2 separate regions of the Homo sapiens genome follow, and region 1 is linked to region 2. The links come from fine-mapping of genetic effects on gene expression. A gene starts in region 2. The other region holds a variant in brackets. All regions are shown on one strand. Distances are between the middles of the regions.

Region 1 (8,473 bases), 360 kb after region 2:
GCACAGATGTCCAGTCTGGCTCTGTAAGGGGAGGGGGGCGGGTGTGTGTCTGTGTGTGCAATAGTGAGAGTTGGTGTTTATGTGATAGGGCACGAGTAGAGGAGGGGTGGGGTCAATAGCACACCCACAGTACGCACCGCCCTGCAGCAGGCTGTCCTGTGCCATACTGTACCATGCACATCACACTGCCCTTTAAGCAGTTTTTCTTGTGCTACAAAACAGTAGAAGACTGTTTCCAGGTTTCTGCCTGCTTAGGCCAGTAATTCCAATCCCAAGCTTAGCCACAGTCTGACTTGAAGGGGAGAGTTCTAGAGAAGGATAAAAGAAGAATTTTCTCAGCAAGTTTGTTTCGTGTGCCCTCCCAAGTTCAAAGAGAAAATTCTGTCTCATTAAAATGACTTCTGGCTTTGCTTGGGGGAATTTCAGGCTTCAACAGTTAACTTTTCTGGAGTTATAACTTTTATGCATTTCTCTTTTTATTGGGTAGATGTTATGATTGGTTTTATAAGCAAAATAAACAGCTTAGGAACAAATGAAAGACTTTTTATTTCTCTTTTAACCGTAAATTCAAGAGCTTGAAATGAATCTGGCAAATAACTCATAATGCTGAGGAGAGCTGTGGCCGAAAGGCAAGATTTCCAAAAATTCTTGAAAATCCAAGTAATACCGGGAATAAATCCCAATTTCAACTTGTTGAGCCCTGTGTCTGTCTTAGAACATTTTTTTTTTCTACCTTAAAAAAATTGGAGAAATCAATCACAGAACTCCTGTTGTGCTGTCTCTTTTCCACAGAGTGCAGAGCTGTGCTCGAGGTCTAGCTGTTCTTAACAGAGCCACAGGGAGCAGGACAAGCACGTGCTTCCTAGTGAGTTGAGGAAGTAACTCCTCCATGTAGGAGTTAAGGCCTCCTAAAGTGCACTTCAAATAAAAATTTAAATTTTAAATTTTAAATTTTAAAAAAAATTAAATTTTTTCCTTATACATCTCATATTTATTTGATTATTTTTCTTTTATTTTTTCTTAAGATCAACCCTGAATTTTTGACCTGACTGATGAACTTACTTTTGATCTTTTAAGCAATTGCACATTATGCAAAATCAATCACTGAAAAAAAACACACATTAATATATACTAGACAAATGATATTAAAATGGTCTTTCATTAAAGGCCCAATTTAAGTTTCATTTTTCTGTATATAAATCCTTCTTTAATCCCTCCCCATCAAAATTATCTACTGTGTCCTTTAGCTAATTGTTGTCATTGTCCATTGAACAACTTTGTGTACCAGGCATTGTAACAGTGCCTGCCTTTTACATACTTGATTTTTAATTATCCAAAGATAGGTTCATGTTACCTGAGGATAAAGAAATGGAGGCCTGGGGGTTAATCAGCTTCTGCAGAGGTCAATAGTGGAGCAGACTTTTGAACCCAGATTGGTCAACTACTATAATTTGCATTTTTTGTAACCTCGTTCACTTCTGTGACTCTACAACACTGCTGTCTACAGGGTATTGCCACTGATTCATCAGCTCCTTCAAAATAAGAAAGAGGTTTTATTAATTTCTATGCAGTCTTTATCAAAAGTTCCTGGCAATTCTTTCAGTAAATTTGTTAAAATAAAGTTATAACCTCAGTTTTATAAACCAGTTGAACAATTCATCTTTAGCTAATCATGATATACATAGTAAAGTTTAGGGAATGTATCTAACAGAAAGCATGTGGTGTGATAGCTGACATATCAAAATCCATGAAACAATCAGCCATTCTTCTAGTAGTAGTAGTAGTAGCAGCAGTAGTTGTAGTAGTGATTACCACCACCACGTTTTATTGAGTAAGTTTTAGTTGTGAATCTTTTCACTTCACATTCATTTTTACAAATTAACCTCAGGGTAATCATAGGAAGTTATAAGAGAACTGTTAATCTCCATATTGCAGTTGAGGAAAGTAAGACTCAGAAAAATTAAATAACTTGTCTAAAATCACAGAGCCTAAAAAATTCTAGCCATGTTCTTACCATTCACATTGTAGGACATAATTGAGTCCCTCTCTATCTGGTGCATTTGATTACCCCACTAAAATATGGCACCAGCAAGATTACAGCCAAGGCGGCAAGATTTGGAGTCAGTGAAGAGAGGCCTTCAATGCAAGAGAATGCTAAGTAAATACTTAGTGAATGATGGAGCCAGTGCAGCTTCTTCAGTAATGGCATCAGTTTTCATCCAAGTCCCTGGTTAACAGCCCATGCTGAACACTGATTCCTATACCCAAGGAATAAGCATAGGGAGTTCACATATTGTTTGCTTTCAATACCTAGGAATACTCTTAAAAATCAACCCTTTGGAGTAAAAAAAAAAAAATAAATCAATACCAACTATTGTTTGAGAAAACATATATTCTGTTAATTATTGGACTTATTGATTTACTCTCCTAAGGCTTTGCCTTTGTGTATTTTTAACAATCTACAGTCATACTACCAGATGTTTTATAAAATATAACCAAAAAAGACAATGCCATACCATTCACCTATGAGGGCAACACAGTCTACTCTAGTATAATAAATGTTTCTGACACATAAATTAATGATAGCCTATTGGGAAGTAAAGGTATGATGTCAGGATACTATAGAAGTCTTGCTGTTCATACACAATTTCCCCTCACATGTTACAACTTTATGCCAAGTAGTCACAGCAACAGAATGCAAAGTATACCAAGCCAGCTGAATATGGTAACGCATGAAGGAACATGGCATGGTCCCCCATGCCCAGTCACCCCATGTTCCTTCTACTGGCTCAGTTTGGCAGTACGTTTTGTGCTTTCTGAGTAGTTCTCCCTGTTTTTTGTTCATTGACCCTTGTCTCTATAACTCAGCATCCTTCTGCCCTGTAATGCCTTCCTTTGTATTGCTTTCAGCAAGCTGTCTTTTACTTTATTTCTAAAGTATTGTCTGATATTTCCCATGGTATTTATTTAGTATAAATTCAAAATACTTTTAAGCTTTGCTTATATTGTATCAGTATTATTATTGCTTTTGCTAATAATCTGTTTACAAACGTGCACAGGTTTTAACTGCCCCACCCCTACTTTCTCACAAAGGGAACAATTTCAAAAATAAGAAGTTTTTTTTGGGCTTCAGGTAGCACATTAGGGAGAAACATCTGCATGGTTCAACAACATCTCCCATCTGGGTCACAGCAGAAGAAGCATGAAGAATGTGAAATGAAAGTCTTGTGCAACTTAGTAGTACTTGTGCACTTTACATACAAGAGAAACACATAAGCATTTGCTGTGGACACCTTTCTCACGGACTCATAAACAAGCATATACAGGTTACTTAGCCACCTGCACCTGTTTGCTTATGTGAAAATTAGAGCTAATAACTCTAACTTCACAAATGGGTAATTAGGACTATATGGAATAACACAAGTTATGCATCTATCACAATATCTAGCACACCAGAGGTACTTATTAAGGATTAATTCCTTTTCTTTTTTTCAATAATCTGTTCATGCATAAGCAGAGAAAATAAGTAGGGCTTTTGGAAATAGGACTGGGACTATCATCTTTTTAACATTCAATGACAGAAAGACAGAACCCTCACAGTGTGACACAACAGAAAAACTAAATTTTTTTTAAAGACACTAAAATTTTAAAAGTACAAAAATCCAGGACCATCAAAGCATGACAGTCAACTTTCTGCTGACATCATGATAGTATAATATTATTGCAATGGCTCTGAATGCAGAAGGCATTCAATTATGTTCAAAATGTTTTATTTCTGAAAGTAGGGAAATATGCAATCTACTTTAATAAGATTTTTAAGAAAATAGTTTTTATTTTTAAACACCTTACTCTTCAGGTTGTATACATATATATAGTGTGTGTATATGTGCATGTGTGTATGTATATAATTTGCATTAATTTATGGGGTAGAAGTGTAATTTTGTTACATGTATAGGTGGCATAGTGGTAAAGTCAGGGCTGTTAGAATATCCATCACTCAAATAACACACATCACATCTAGATTATATTTTGAAGAGTTTATAAAATTCTTCATGTCTC[A/G]TGATCTTCTCTCTTTCAAAATTGATGATATAAATCAGAATTTCAGAAAAAAATATTAAGCAATGACTTCAGAGTTAAAATAAATCATGTAGAATAGACAGTTAAGTAGCAATTATTCCTGGCTTCCTTGTTTAAAATGATGCAGGGAAAAGAATATACATTCAAATGACAGCAAGAATGACTTTGATTAGGTAGATTAAAAAAACATACAGAACTTTTGAATTCCCAGTTTCTTAGAACAAACTGTGAAGATAGTAAGCAGTGTTTCCTTTTTGAAAGGAAATAATTAAGGATAGAAATTATTCTATTTACAGACCATTAATTTGAATATTTATGTTTCTCCCTACATTAGTTTCTACTGTTGATAACCCAAAGATTGCCCATTTTTATTTCAAAATAAGAAATAAATCAGGACCACTTTGTGTGTCAACCAAGAATTACACACCCACTCCCTCAATGGCAGCAAGGTTATACACAGTAGTGACTAAGAGCTTGGATGTAAGTAAGCCTTAACAGACATGTCAGATTCAAGCTTTGCTGCTTACTGGCCCCTTGAACTCAGGCTGGGTACTTAAAACTTTTCTCTGACTCATGTTTTTTCTCTTCGGCAAAATTGGATTAATGTTACCTCTCTTCTGGAGTTGTTTTAAGGCTTACATTGGATGTATGCAATTGACAAAATGCCTGGCACAAAGTGATTGTTACATACACACATATATGTACAGTATATATTAACCTTTACACTCTTTATGAAGGGCTTATAATGAATGACTATTATGCTTTGTTTCTTTCTTTTTTTAATTATGTAGTTACATAAAATCACTAAGGGAAAAAGAACAAAGATAACTAAAACATAGTCTCACTGTACAGTATAATTTGTGTGTGAACACTAATAATGATGAATTGCACTTTGTACATCACATGTTTTAAAATAGGCAATTATAGATCATAAAAATTAATTTTGATACTTATCATCTTGCTGTAAAATGCATTTGATATTAAATTTTAAGTAAGATTGTGAATAAGAACACCTTAAAAGTCATACTGAAAAAAATCAATTTCTCTAAATGTTTAGAAAAAATAAGGTTAAATAGAAATATTTTTCACTAAAAACTATATTCTGATTTATATTTCTAATTTTTTATGATATTCTAATTTTATCACATTTTCTTGGAATTGCTTTATAGTAGGAATTGTGCTTCATGCCATATGCATGAGACTTCATTTAGTGTATTTTGATATCGACTTTTGACATTTCAGCCAGCCTATTCAAATTAAAAAATTCCTTTTAAATTTCTTGTTTCCGTCCATATTACTAGATGATTCCTAGGACACCGTCATACCTTTTAGCTCTAATCTTGGCTTTTAACGTGATTCTCAAACGCAACTTGGCCTTCCTTTTTTGGTATCTTGCAAAACACAATACTTGTTTAATGGTTAACTTAATATCTACAAATGGAAAAAGCGCTCTTGGCTCTTTAAAGATTTTAGTACTTTTGGTAAAAGGATCTCATGAACTAAGTTCTTGCTGTCTCTTGCAGCACAATTTGAAGTTTTCCTAAATAAGAAATCTAATGAGTATTATCTGAAGTTATAGTTATGCAATTTCTACTGCCATCATTACAAAGGAATACCTCCTATAATTAAAAGGCATGCAGTCATTCTTGGACTAAATGGAAGAAGAAATTAAATCGTCCCTTAGTGGAGGTATAATAGAGCTTGCTTGGTTGCTCTGGGGGAGAGAAGAATGTTTTGACTGTGTGTGGGGAGGAAAGAGGAAAGACTCAGTAAATAATTTGTTTTTCATCACTCCTGTTAATGCCAGCTCTGAATCTCAAATAATAAGTCAATTGCAATTTCATAAAGATACATCAAATGACATTTTATCCTTTTGTAGATCTAGATAAATGGTCTTAAGGATGAGGAATGGCTGACTTTAGCAAACAGATTAAAAATAGAACATTACCCAAACACTGAGTAACTCAAATTTAAAAAGCACAAAGACATTCACATGCAAAACCAAAGAGTTTTTTTGCTATTGAGAAGAAAGGTTGTGACCTGGCTTCTAGTCTGTCTCCATTCTTGACCTCCTTTATTTTAGTTCAAAGAGATTAAATACATTTTCTTGGGCCAGTCGTGGATGAGAACATCATGGATACTTTGGCTTGAAGAGAGAGAAGGAAGAGATGGGGAAAAGGGACTATGACCTAATGGGTCTTTTCCATCCCTGTAGCCTGGGTTTCTGCCATTCCTTCCCACACAACCCAAACTCCAGCCACATTGGCTCCCTTGCCATTCCCAAAACACACTAAACATTTAACTGAGTATGCCTTTGCACATACTGTTCTCTCTGCCTTTACTACCACCACCCCCACTTCTGTTTTGCAAACTCCTACTCATCTGTCAGCAGATTTCATCCACTCTGTAAAACCTAACCCAATTCACAAGCAAAGCTAATCAGTCTTTCATGCAGCTTTCATGCCACTTTGTTTATTCCTCCTCTTACTCCATTTAACTGAAATGTGTCTTTTTAAACATCTCTTTCTTCTACACTCAGCTATGGACTTCTGAAGGAAAGGGACTGAGCCTCTCTTATCTTTTTTGCCCAGTCCCTTATAGGTAGCTAGGAAACCATAAAGGCTTATACATTCATACTGCAAGTAGGTAGGTAGATGGTGATACAGATAAAGGCACAGAGGCAGAGATGAAGATACATACAGAGAAAGATAGAGACAGTGACAGAGAGCCAGAGATGGTGCTTCAAGTACCTAAGGGAAAAAGCTCAGAAGCAGGATGGCACAAGACCTTTGGCATGTTTTCGACTCTAAGATTTAATTGGCATAGTGGGGAAAAAGGAGTGGTAATTAAATTTGCATTAGACTGCATGAACACGGTATGCATGTGACAAGGGTTGGGGGAGGGAATAGCATGTTCCCAAGTACATGTGGTTAATTTATCTGAATTAAATTTGGTTGTCTTTAAAACTGAGTTCTGAGTCCTGAGTAGAAAATGTAGAGAGTATGATTGAACAAAGTGTAATCAAAAATGTCTTAGAAAAAAAATCTGTTTTTAAATGAAGTGGCAGAGCCCTTTGTTATCTTAAGCTGGATGAAAATAGAACCTTCATTGCAATCATGTCAAATATACATTCCAGGAAGAGGATGGGCTTCATAAACAACTGAGAAATAAAGGAAAGTAACATAACACTCCCTCTGTCTTTCCACATAAATCCACCTACTATAGATACCAACAAATGAAGAAATGAAAATCTGGGAGTCCTTCTCATAGGCAGGTCAAACACATGATGTAAAAGAAGATCAAACTTATTAAGTACCTATTATGGTTGAGAATGCCTTTAAGAATGAAAAATTAAGACATATTCAACACTCAACACCAACGCACCAAAGAACATAACCCAGATGAGGTAATCTGCAAGACTGGAGTAAAAATGAGCTAATGCTGTTTAGGGGATTGTATGCAAAATATGGCAAGACATCAATAACAACTGAAAGGAGGAGGAGGAAAAAAGCTGCTCAGCTGCTAGCAATAAAGAAGACGCAAATCTGCAAATTGCATTAACTGTTTCAGTAACTTGTAGGGCAGTGCAGTTAATCCTTGAGGCTAGTGCCGTCTTCATCTAGTCAGCAGGAGTACTAGCTAGACAAACTGTACATCTGTGTTTCTGGGCTGTATTTGTTGAGGCTTCCTCTTCCTTACTTTCTTTCCTTGGGGGGGTCTGTGCATGGAGAAAGGAGAGTGAGGGATGGAAGACTGTCTTATCCTCTTCTAATTCTCCCTACCACTGGCTTACAAATGCTATCTCCATCATGCCATCATGATGAAGAGGCATATATAATGTTATTCAGGCTGGCAGTTGAACTGACAATACATTTTATATATTACCCAAATGTTGAAGAAGAAAATTTGCAATAACCCAGTATTCATTTGTAAAAGCATTAAGTTGGCTTCATTAGTTACAAAATTGAATTTGTGAGCTGTTAAATGTCAGATGTGACCCTTGGGCCTTTTTGAGGTGAGGTGATGTGGTGAAGGGCAGGCTTCAGGTCTTGTTTTATACAAGAATTTTAATTGTTCTGGCTAGGAAGTTGAAGTGACTCATTGAGTTGAAGTGGTCTCTATCTCCTGACACAGATTACAAATGGGGGAGGATAGTGTAGCAATAATATCTTTAAAAGAATTGAACTAGCTCACTTTGCTGTTTTAACTACTTCCATCCAGATTCATTTGTTTTGGACATAAAAGTTGAAAGCAGGCCAATGACAGCAAAAGCAGTGTCTTTGTCACTCCTTTTGAACCCATACAAACCTTTTCGCTGTGCTTAAATCAGGCTTTTTTTTTTCTGCCAAAGAAAATTGCATGCTATTTGGCCTTTTCCAAGCTTTTATTGAAGAAC
Region 2 (8,473 bases):
AATTTAGGTGGTAAAATTAATAGAGATTGGCAACGGATTTGTTATAAAGGGTCAACAGTAAAAGGTCTCATGGATGACTAACAGGCTTTTGGCCGGAGTAACTGGGTGAACAATACTAGACACCTGCCTAGACAGGAAACATAAGCAACAGGCATACACAGGTTGAGTGTGAGGTGCCTCTTTGTAATGCATACAAGGTCTTATACCATGGGTTGATTGAGCAACTATGGACAGCTAGAGGGGAGGACAAAATCCAGCCTAGGGTCCTTAAGGAGGATAAGCTAAGAATGAGTTTTACATTATTAAAGACTCCTTTCTCAAAAAGAGAGAGAAGGGAAAACTATGGGGAAGAGACCTTACATGGCCCACAAAAGCTAAAATGCTTACCTGACTTTTTGCAGAAAGTTTGCCAACCCCTGCCCTACACTACCTGGATGCCAGTACCCTCTTGGATATCCCTTCCTATTCTTCTCACTCCAGACACACTAGCCTTACTGCTGTTCCTTGAACATGTCAAGGACCCTACCCTGGAGCCTCCGACTTGGCTTTAAAGCCAAGTCTAAGTCTAGCTGTGAAGTTTCATCTTCTGTCATCTTTGCAGTGAGGCATAACCTGACTACTTTATTTAAAATTGTAACACTGTTCCAACTTCTCATCCATGGAAGAATCCCCTTATCCTGCTTTCCTTGTTTCCATAAAACTTACTACCTTCTACTATAGTATTTATTTACTTCATTAGAACATAAGCTCCATGAGAGCAGTGATTTGTTTTTTTCATTGCTGTATGATCAGAGCACAGAACAGTGCCTTACACATGGAGGCTGTGATATATTTCTTGAATGAATGGATTCATGAATGAATGTCTATCAGGCAGTTAGATGAACTTGTCTAGAGCTCAAAAATAGAATCTATGAATCTCCACAGAAATTCAAAGGTTCTATTTTTACCTATACACCAGTGACACAAATGGGTATCTCTAGGAGACTTCTGTGATTAGCCTAGGGAGAAAAATGTAGAGTGAAAAGACCTTGGACCAAATTTAGAGAAACCCCATCATTAATGGCCAGGTAGAGGAGGATGAGTCTGCAAAAGAAACCAGAAGGAGCAAATCAAGACAGAAAAAGAACCAGGAGAGTTTTTTGAGAAGAAAGCTGAATGCAGATGACAGTTCACGTAAGAGGACGACTGAAAATGTCCATTACATTGAGCGACATAGAGCCTGAGCTTACTGGTGACTTTACCAAGAAGCTACTCAGTCAACTTGCTGAGCCTTACCACACAAGAAGAAAGCCATAAACAAGACACATGGTTTGGGCTTTGTGGACCTACTAGCTTAGTGTGGAATACAGACATTACATTACATAATTACAAGTATGATGACTACCACTGAAAGAAGAACCAGTGTCCTATGGGAGCAAATAAGAGTGAATTAATCTGATCTGAGAGACTGAACAAAACTCATTAACCTATCATTTATTTTTATCATCTTAAAAGAAGGTCCGTCTTTAGTACTTTATTAATAGAAAAGGCTCAAATTAAGTTGGCTACATATAATTTACACTCCCATATGTTCTTCTATGGCTGCTATCTCCTAGAAGAAAATCTCAAGCTTTTAAGGTTTTTTATTTGAAAACACAAAATCTGTCTTTAACAACATTTTTTCAGCCTCGAAGAGTAAGAATGCAGCTGCAAAACAACATCTATCCATTCCCAATGTCCACTTTTTAAAAAGCTAGTACTTTATTCCATAGTAAAAGTGTTAAAACTGGTTAACAGTATGGCAAAACTGAGTGTGATAAAACAGAATTGGTTTGCCCATATTCTAGTTAAGCAGAAACCAAACATCTCCTATAACATAACCACATACATTAAAGTTGAATGTAAAATCACTAGCTGCTAAAGACCTACTGGATGATAAAGACCTACTCCCAACGATAAAGATGATAAAGACCTACTCCCAATAAGGTTTTATTTACTTCAGTGGAGATTTAAATATATAGGAATCACATTATACTCGCATACTTGGCAGAATTCTTTGAATAAATTCTTGGTTCAAAGTACAAAGGAAAAAATACATACATACATGACTCTGAATTTTAGAGACATACCCTTACAGGTTATAAAAATGTAATCTGAAATTCAAAAAAAGGATAATTATTTTAAGCAAAGAGGTCCAGGGGAAAAAAGAACATAGTCTAGGAGTTCTTCCTAAAGATAATGAGAATTGATTATGAGAAAGGGTACAGTGTTGGGGAATTTCTGGGTACTTATAAATGAACACTCTTGGAGCCCTAAATAGTACTACCAGTCTCCTAGTTATTAAGTACCGCTGTCATCTTACACACGTCACCTTCTAAATATATGCCGTCTTTCCCTTTAAACACTATTGGACCTCTTCTTCCCTATCTCCAAAACAATATATCCTAGTTCAAACTTTTTCACCTTACCCCACCAAAGCCCTGAGTTTGAGGTCGGAGAGCTTTGGGTTCTAATCCCAAATCCGCCACTACTCACAGTAACAGCTAAGAGACCTTGGCCAAGCTGCTGAACCTGTCTGGCCTCATTTTCAAAATAAAGAGAATACCTCCCACAATTGCCCTTTTCCAGGTCTCTGCCCAGTACCTTTCCAATTCCCTTCCAATCACCGTCCCATTTAAGCCTACCCGTCTCGGCTCAAAGACCACTTTCTTCGAAAAGTCTGACAAGCTTTTCATCTTCCAAATGCCTTAATAATGCCTAACCACATTTTTTTCTCTTACAATTCACTTGGCAGGAAACCATGCACCGTCTTGTGATCTTCCATGCACTGCTGACTCAAACTAATTGGATTGTTTTTGTTTTTAACTTTAGGTAGGCCCCCTGAGGACACCGGCTGCATCTCATTTCTTTAAAAAACATTTCCTGAGAGCTTACCCTGGGCCAAGCACTGGGGGTGCAAAGGTTGACACAAGGGCCCTTACTCTCATAATCCAGTGGGAAGTTCACAATCCAGTGGGGAAGACAGACAAAAGTGATTACAGATGAGTGTTAAGTAACGATACAGCATTAAGCACACGTTACTAAGGGCAGGTAGTGGAAGATGCCTGTCCCTGGGGGTCCTGCCCCTGTAGTCTATCTTGGAAGTTTAATGACACAGGCGGGAAAGGGAAAGGAAGGAAAGAGAAGCAGCAAAAAGGAAAGTGAGAGAAAGCACTCCAGCCATGGCACAGTGGCTTACAGAAAAGAGATAATCTGTAAACAGTATCTAAGTTAACTGTGAATCTCAATTGTCTACATTAGTATGGGAGCCTGGAAAAAGCAATGGGCAATTACGACTGAAAAATCACTAGTAGCTGATAATGAAAAACACTAAATAATTTCCCTCTAGCAGAAGACTTACCTTACTAACTTGCTCTGTTTAAACTTGGGGCGAGGAATGGGGAGGTGTGTTGTGGGGATGGAGGGCTGGCTGAGCGGCGGGACACAAGGCCCCAAAGCGAGGGTGGTGGACCAGTGACCGCCCGATAGAAAGAGGAAGACTAACGGGGGAGGCTGGGGGCAGGTGGCGCTGCCCGTGCATCTACAGCCGGGGCTGGCGACGGGGGAGCCACCCACTGGGCCCTATTTGGGCCCGGCGACACCTCCACTTGGGCAATACTGGGGTAACCGAGGGGAGGATGTTTCCCGAGCTGTAGAAAACCAGGACGTAAAATTGAAATCCACCTGAGCCATGCAGGAAGATCAGAGAGGCGCTATGCCTCCCTGCCGGCGACACGATACAGCGCTGCAGAACCGACCCCGACGCAGCCGCCATCGCTGATGCCACTGCCAGTCATGCGGTTCCGCCCCTGCGTTGCCGCGCGGGGCCGCGCACGCAAATACGCAGGCACGCGCGGGAGCACGCCCGGGAGCGCGCATGCGCAGCGCTGCTGGCCCGCTCTCTGAGGAGCTTTCAATACTTTGGGGTCAAGTTTGAGGCAGTTGTAACTGTACTGAGTTTAGTTTTGCTAATAATGGTATTCTACGTGTGTCAGCCTCGTGTGGACTTCTGTAATGACTAATGGATATGTTTATATCCTGAGCATTTGCTGTAGGAATTTTAAATGCAATCCCAAAACTCAAGATTACCTTATTTGGAGAAATATTCGTGTTACTATGTTTAAAATTTAATAGAACCATATTTTACCTTTCACTTTGGGACTCGCACAGGATGTTTGCAGCTCTTGATATACAGGGTAAGCGAAGCATATAATAATAAGTTCTCTTCGTGTCTCTTATTTTTAATAAATAGTTTACAAAGCAAATCTAATTTAATGAGATTCTGCTTTATATACCCATTAGAATGGCTCTTATCAAAAAAACAGAAAATAAGTATTAGTAAAGATGTGTAGAAATTAGAAACCTTGTGCATAGCTGATCAGAATGTAAAATGATGTTGCGGCAATAGAAATAATTTGGTGGCTCCTCAACAAGTTAAACATTGACTTAGCATAGGTACTAGCAGTTCCACTTCTAGGTATATACCCAAAAGAGATGAAAGCAGGGACTCAAACAAATACTTGTACTTCAGTGTTCTGTAGCAGCATTATTCACAAGTACCAAAAAGTGGAAACAACTCAAATGTTCATCTACAGATGGAGAGATAAACCAAATGTGCTATGTACATATTGGAATGGAATATTATTCAGCCTGTAAAAAGAATGTGATTCGGATACATGCTACAACATGGATGAACCTTGAAAACATTATGCCGAGTGAAGCCAGACACAAAAGGACAAATAATTGTATGATTCCACTTACATGAGATATCTAGAATTGGCAAATGCATAGGGACAGAAAGTGAAATTAGAGGTTACCAGGGACTAAGGGAAGAGGGAGTTGGGAGGTTGTTGTTTAATGAGTACAAGAGTTTCTGCTTAGATAGTGAAACATTTTTAAAAATGGACAGTGATGATGGTTGTACAACAGTGTTAATAACTGCCAGTGAACTATACACCTAGTAAATTTTATGTGTATTTTACCATAATTTTAAAAATACTAAGAAATGGAATTATTTCCTGTATAAAGTCCAAAACATAGGTATCTTTTAATACTGAAGGCAGTGGCCCCAGCAGGTTGCTCTTGCCTCATGTAAAATTCAACAAAATAACCCAGTAAAAGCTTAAGTACCATTAAACACTGGCCTTCCATTCATTGTAGTCTGCATTACATTTTAGCAATTACAACTTACCTTTTATTTGTTCCAGGTAATCACCCTACTTACAGGTAAGTAAACTGTTTACTATCAACATTAGTTGCCAAAATCAGCTCTAAGCTATCATGGTGTTATATTAATAACAATACCATCAACAAGAATGGTCCTACATGCCATTAGTTAACCAAATCAAAAAGAAATTCTGAGTCATTTCTCCAAAGCCCATAGATCTGCAGCAGAGAGTTGTATAAGTGAAGTCCCTGAGGAGGACAAACTAGGGTAGGCTGAGCTCTGATAGCCAATTCTTAAAAGAAAAACCTCTGTCTTTTGACCTGCCTTCCCCGTATGAGTTCTAGATAACCTTCCCTAGCCAGGTGAGAAGAGGGCAGTGCTACTAGGAAAGACCACTTGGAGATATACAGGGAAGGCTTTAAGTTCTACTCTTAGAACTCCATTTACTACCTGAAAATCTTACTGTACACCACCCCACGCTTTTGAGACAGCAAAAAATCAGAATATAATTATTTAAGAGTAATGATTATTAATAATAATAAGCAACTAATATTCATGGGATTCAGTAGGTGCCAAAAACTGTCATAAATTAATTCCAATAAAACTCAGTACTATTACTATCTGCTTTTGTCAATGAGGCTCAAAGAGGTAAGGAACCTGGCTCAAAGTCATAGTGCCAGTCAATTGTAGAACCTGGATTCACATGCTGGGCTTGACTCCAGAGCATAGGTTCTTAACTATTACCCACATTTACACATGAGTGCACAGAAATGAAGCAAGGGCATGTCGCAACTCTTATTTCAAAAACAAAAGTCTGGAATTTGTATTGTGGCCCTTTAGAGTCTCTATTTATTAGGTGTTCCTGTGCTTCTTTAGTTTTTCCCAAGTCTACTGCTATTAGTTCCTGATTTGTTCTTCCAACTATTCTACCAGTTTAAACAGGTAGATAAGCAGGTGGTAAATACCAGAAGCAACCTTCTGTATTCTGAATTTCACTGAGAACTCCAGCCTTCCCAGATTCATTATTAGAATGAGCCAGATTCTTCCACACTTAACCAAAGTGCTATTTTATTTCCAGTGATTTAAATGCTTAGCTATTGTTGCTATTCCTTTCATCTGTATTTGTTTATAGGACAAGCAAAGGTTTTAGATTACCTATATTTAGAGATCCCATCTGGTAGGCAAACTGTTGAACAAAAATGTTTTGTTCCTTTCATGTTACTGTACTACTTTGAAATGTAATTAAGTTTCAAGATGACTATTTGCTTTTGTGGTGGATCTTTTGCCCTATTGAAGGTGGGGGAATATTATCACTGGAAGATTCCTATTCATACATTCTTTTACTCTTTATATAGCTCCTAATTATTTTTTGTTGCTACTCATTTGCTTTCTGCCAATCTATATGCACCTCCTTTTGGTAACTTCAGTTCTAAACTTAAAAAAGCAAGTAAACAAAATAAAAGAAAAAGAAAAAGTTCTCCTGTTTTGCAGGGTTTCAATATCAATTAGGATCTAACGATATAAATGGCAAAGTCGGAGTTTAGTTTACTGTTCTTCAGTGTGTTGAGAAATGCTTTAGGCCACACTTAGTTTTCAAAACAGAAAAGCAATTGAAAGTTCAGCCATTAAGATTAGTATATTTTGCCTGGGTGCAGTGGCTTACTGTAATCCCAGCACTTTGGGAGGCCAAGGCAGGCGGTTCACTTCAGGCCAGGAGTTTAAGACCAGCCTGGCCAACATGGCGAAACCCCATCTGTACTAAAAATACAAAAAAACTTAGCCGAGCATCATGGCGCATGCCTGTAATCCCAGCTACTCCGGTGGCTGAGACACAATAATTGATTGAACCCCGAGGCAGAGGTTGCAGTGAGCCAAGATCTCACCACTGAACTCCAGCCTGGGTGACAGAGCAAGACTCTGTCTCAAAAAAGAAACAAAAACAATGAACAAGATTAGTATACTTGGTATTTTCAAATGATAACAGTTAAATGAAGTTGCATTTGTCACGCAGACAGTACACAGTTTCCCGTTTGTTGTTTGGCTCATTCTTAAGCATCAAACCATATCCTCTCTATTGGTTAGTTTTCATCTGTTGCATCATTCAGAGAGAGAGAAACACACACACACACACACACACACACACACACACACATATATATATAAACAATATATACACATTGCACAAAATGCTTCAGCTTCAGCTTTAGGTAATTTAACATTTTGTCATAGATAAATAAAATGATTTCTTTTATGCATTCCCCCTGTCCATTCATGAAAGAAAAACTAGAAACAAACTTAAAGGTCCTGAATTCTTACAAAACAGCAAAACTATACTTTTTATAAATGAGATTATAAACTTTAACATAATCATTGCCTCAGTTCTGGGGACCTTAATCTTTTTCAGTCCAGTCTTTCCAGATACAGATATGGGTCATTCCTCTACTTTACCTTACTACTAGATGTGCATGGTCTCATTCTCTTTTTAGAGCAGATGGGTCACGTGGGGCATTGTGAGATGGACTGAGATGGCATTGGCAGTAGGGGTAGGGGAATACATGAGCTCCTCAAACACAGACCAAACGCAGCCTTGGAGAATGGATAGTGATTACTCTGCTGGATTATTAACAGTCAACATGATACACACCAAAGCAGTATGTAGGCCCTAGAGGAGGACAGTGAACTTTCCTCCCTTGGGTGCAGGCTACAGGGTCAGTGTTTATGCTTGGACACCAGAACAATGTTCTTTGCATTGCCATTTGTCTCCTCTTTTCTGGGAAATGGGTCTTCTTCCATTTGGACACCTCTTATGGCCAGTTCTCAAATTCCTAAGTTACCCTCTGGAAACACTTCTTATTCAACTTCCACTCAGTGCTTATATGAGTCTGAGGAATCCCTCCTGCAATCTTCATATTTGTCTCTGTACTCTAGAACCTATTACTTTTTTCTTCTATAACAAATTTTCAGGCTTTTGAAATCCAGGGCAAGAATCAACAGCAACCCCTAATCAGGTTTTGGGCCCTTGAGGGCAGGGAAGTTCAAATCCTACCATGAGATGAGGGGAAGTCATTGCATTGCATACGTCTATTACAAAGAAAAGAAATAAAAGCCAAAAGAGTAATTTCCTTATGAATGCAGTCAGAATATCTACTGTATTTTGCTACATTCATTTAAGAGAAGATTAGATAGGTAGATATAAAAAATGTTGAAGTAATGAAATGATAGGAGTTCCTGTTCCAGCCTCGGGGATGACAAGCTATGTAAATTAGACAGGCCATTTAGTCTCATTGG

Alleles and levels. Positions count from the first base shown, and alleles are read on the strand shown. Sizes are in standard deviations (SD) of each study's normalised expression.
For the expression in putamen of the gene that starts at base 3,896 in region 2, allele G in region 1 goes with a lower level than allele A (large effect, 1.4 SD a copy in GTEx).

Evidence for each region.
Region 1: its variant is fine-mapped to the expression of LYPLAL1-DT in putamen (GTEx, PIP above 0.99).

What each region holds. Positions count from the first base shown.
Region 1 is chr1:218,809,563-218,818,035 of GRCh38, reverse strand. No RefSeq gene overlaps it. Among named protein-coding and RNA genes, the nearest start is that of LINC01710, 100 kb to the left of the region's middle. The variant A/G (reference allele first, on the strand shown) is at 4,060.
Region 2 is chr1:219,169,211-219,177,683 of GRCh38, reverse strand. LYPLAL1-DT (LYPLAL1 divergent transcript) reads left to right here and starts at 3,896. Exons shown (of 5, transcript NR_038845.1): 1 at 3,896-4,214. LYPLAL1 (lysophospholipase like 1) reads right to left here and starts at 3,806. Exons shown (of 5, transcript NM_138794.5): 1 at 3,703-3,806. The coding sequence starts at 3,793. RefSeq lists enhancers at 1-121, 3,516-3,845, 3,926-3,975.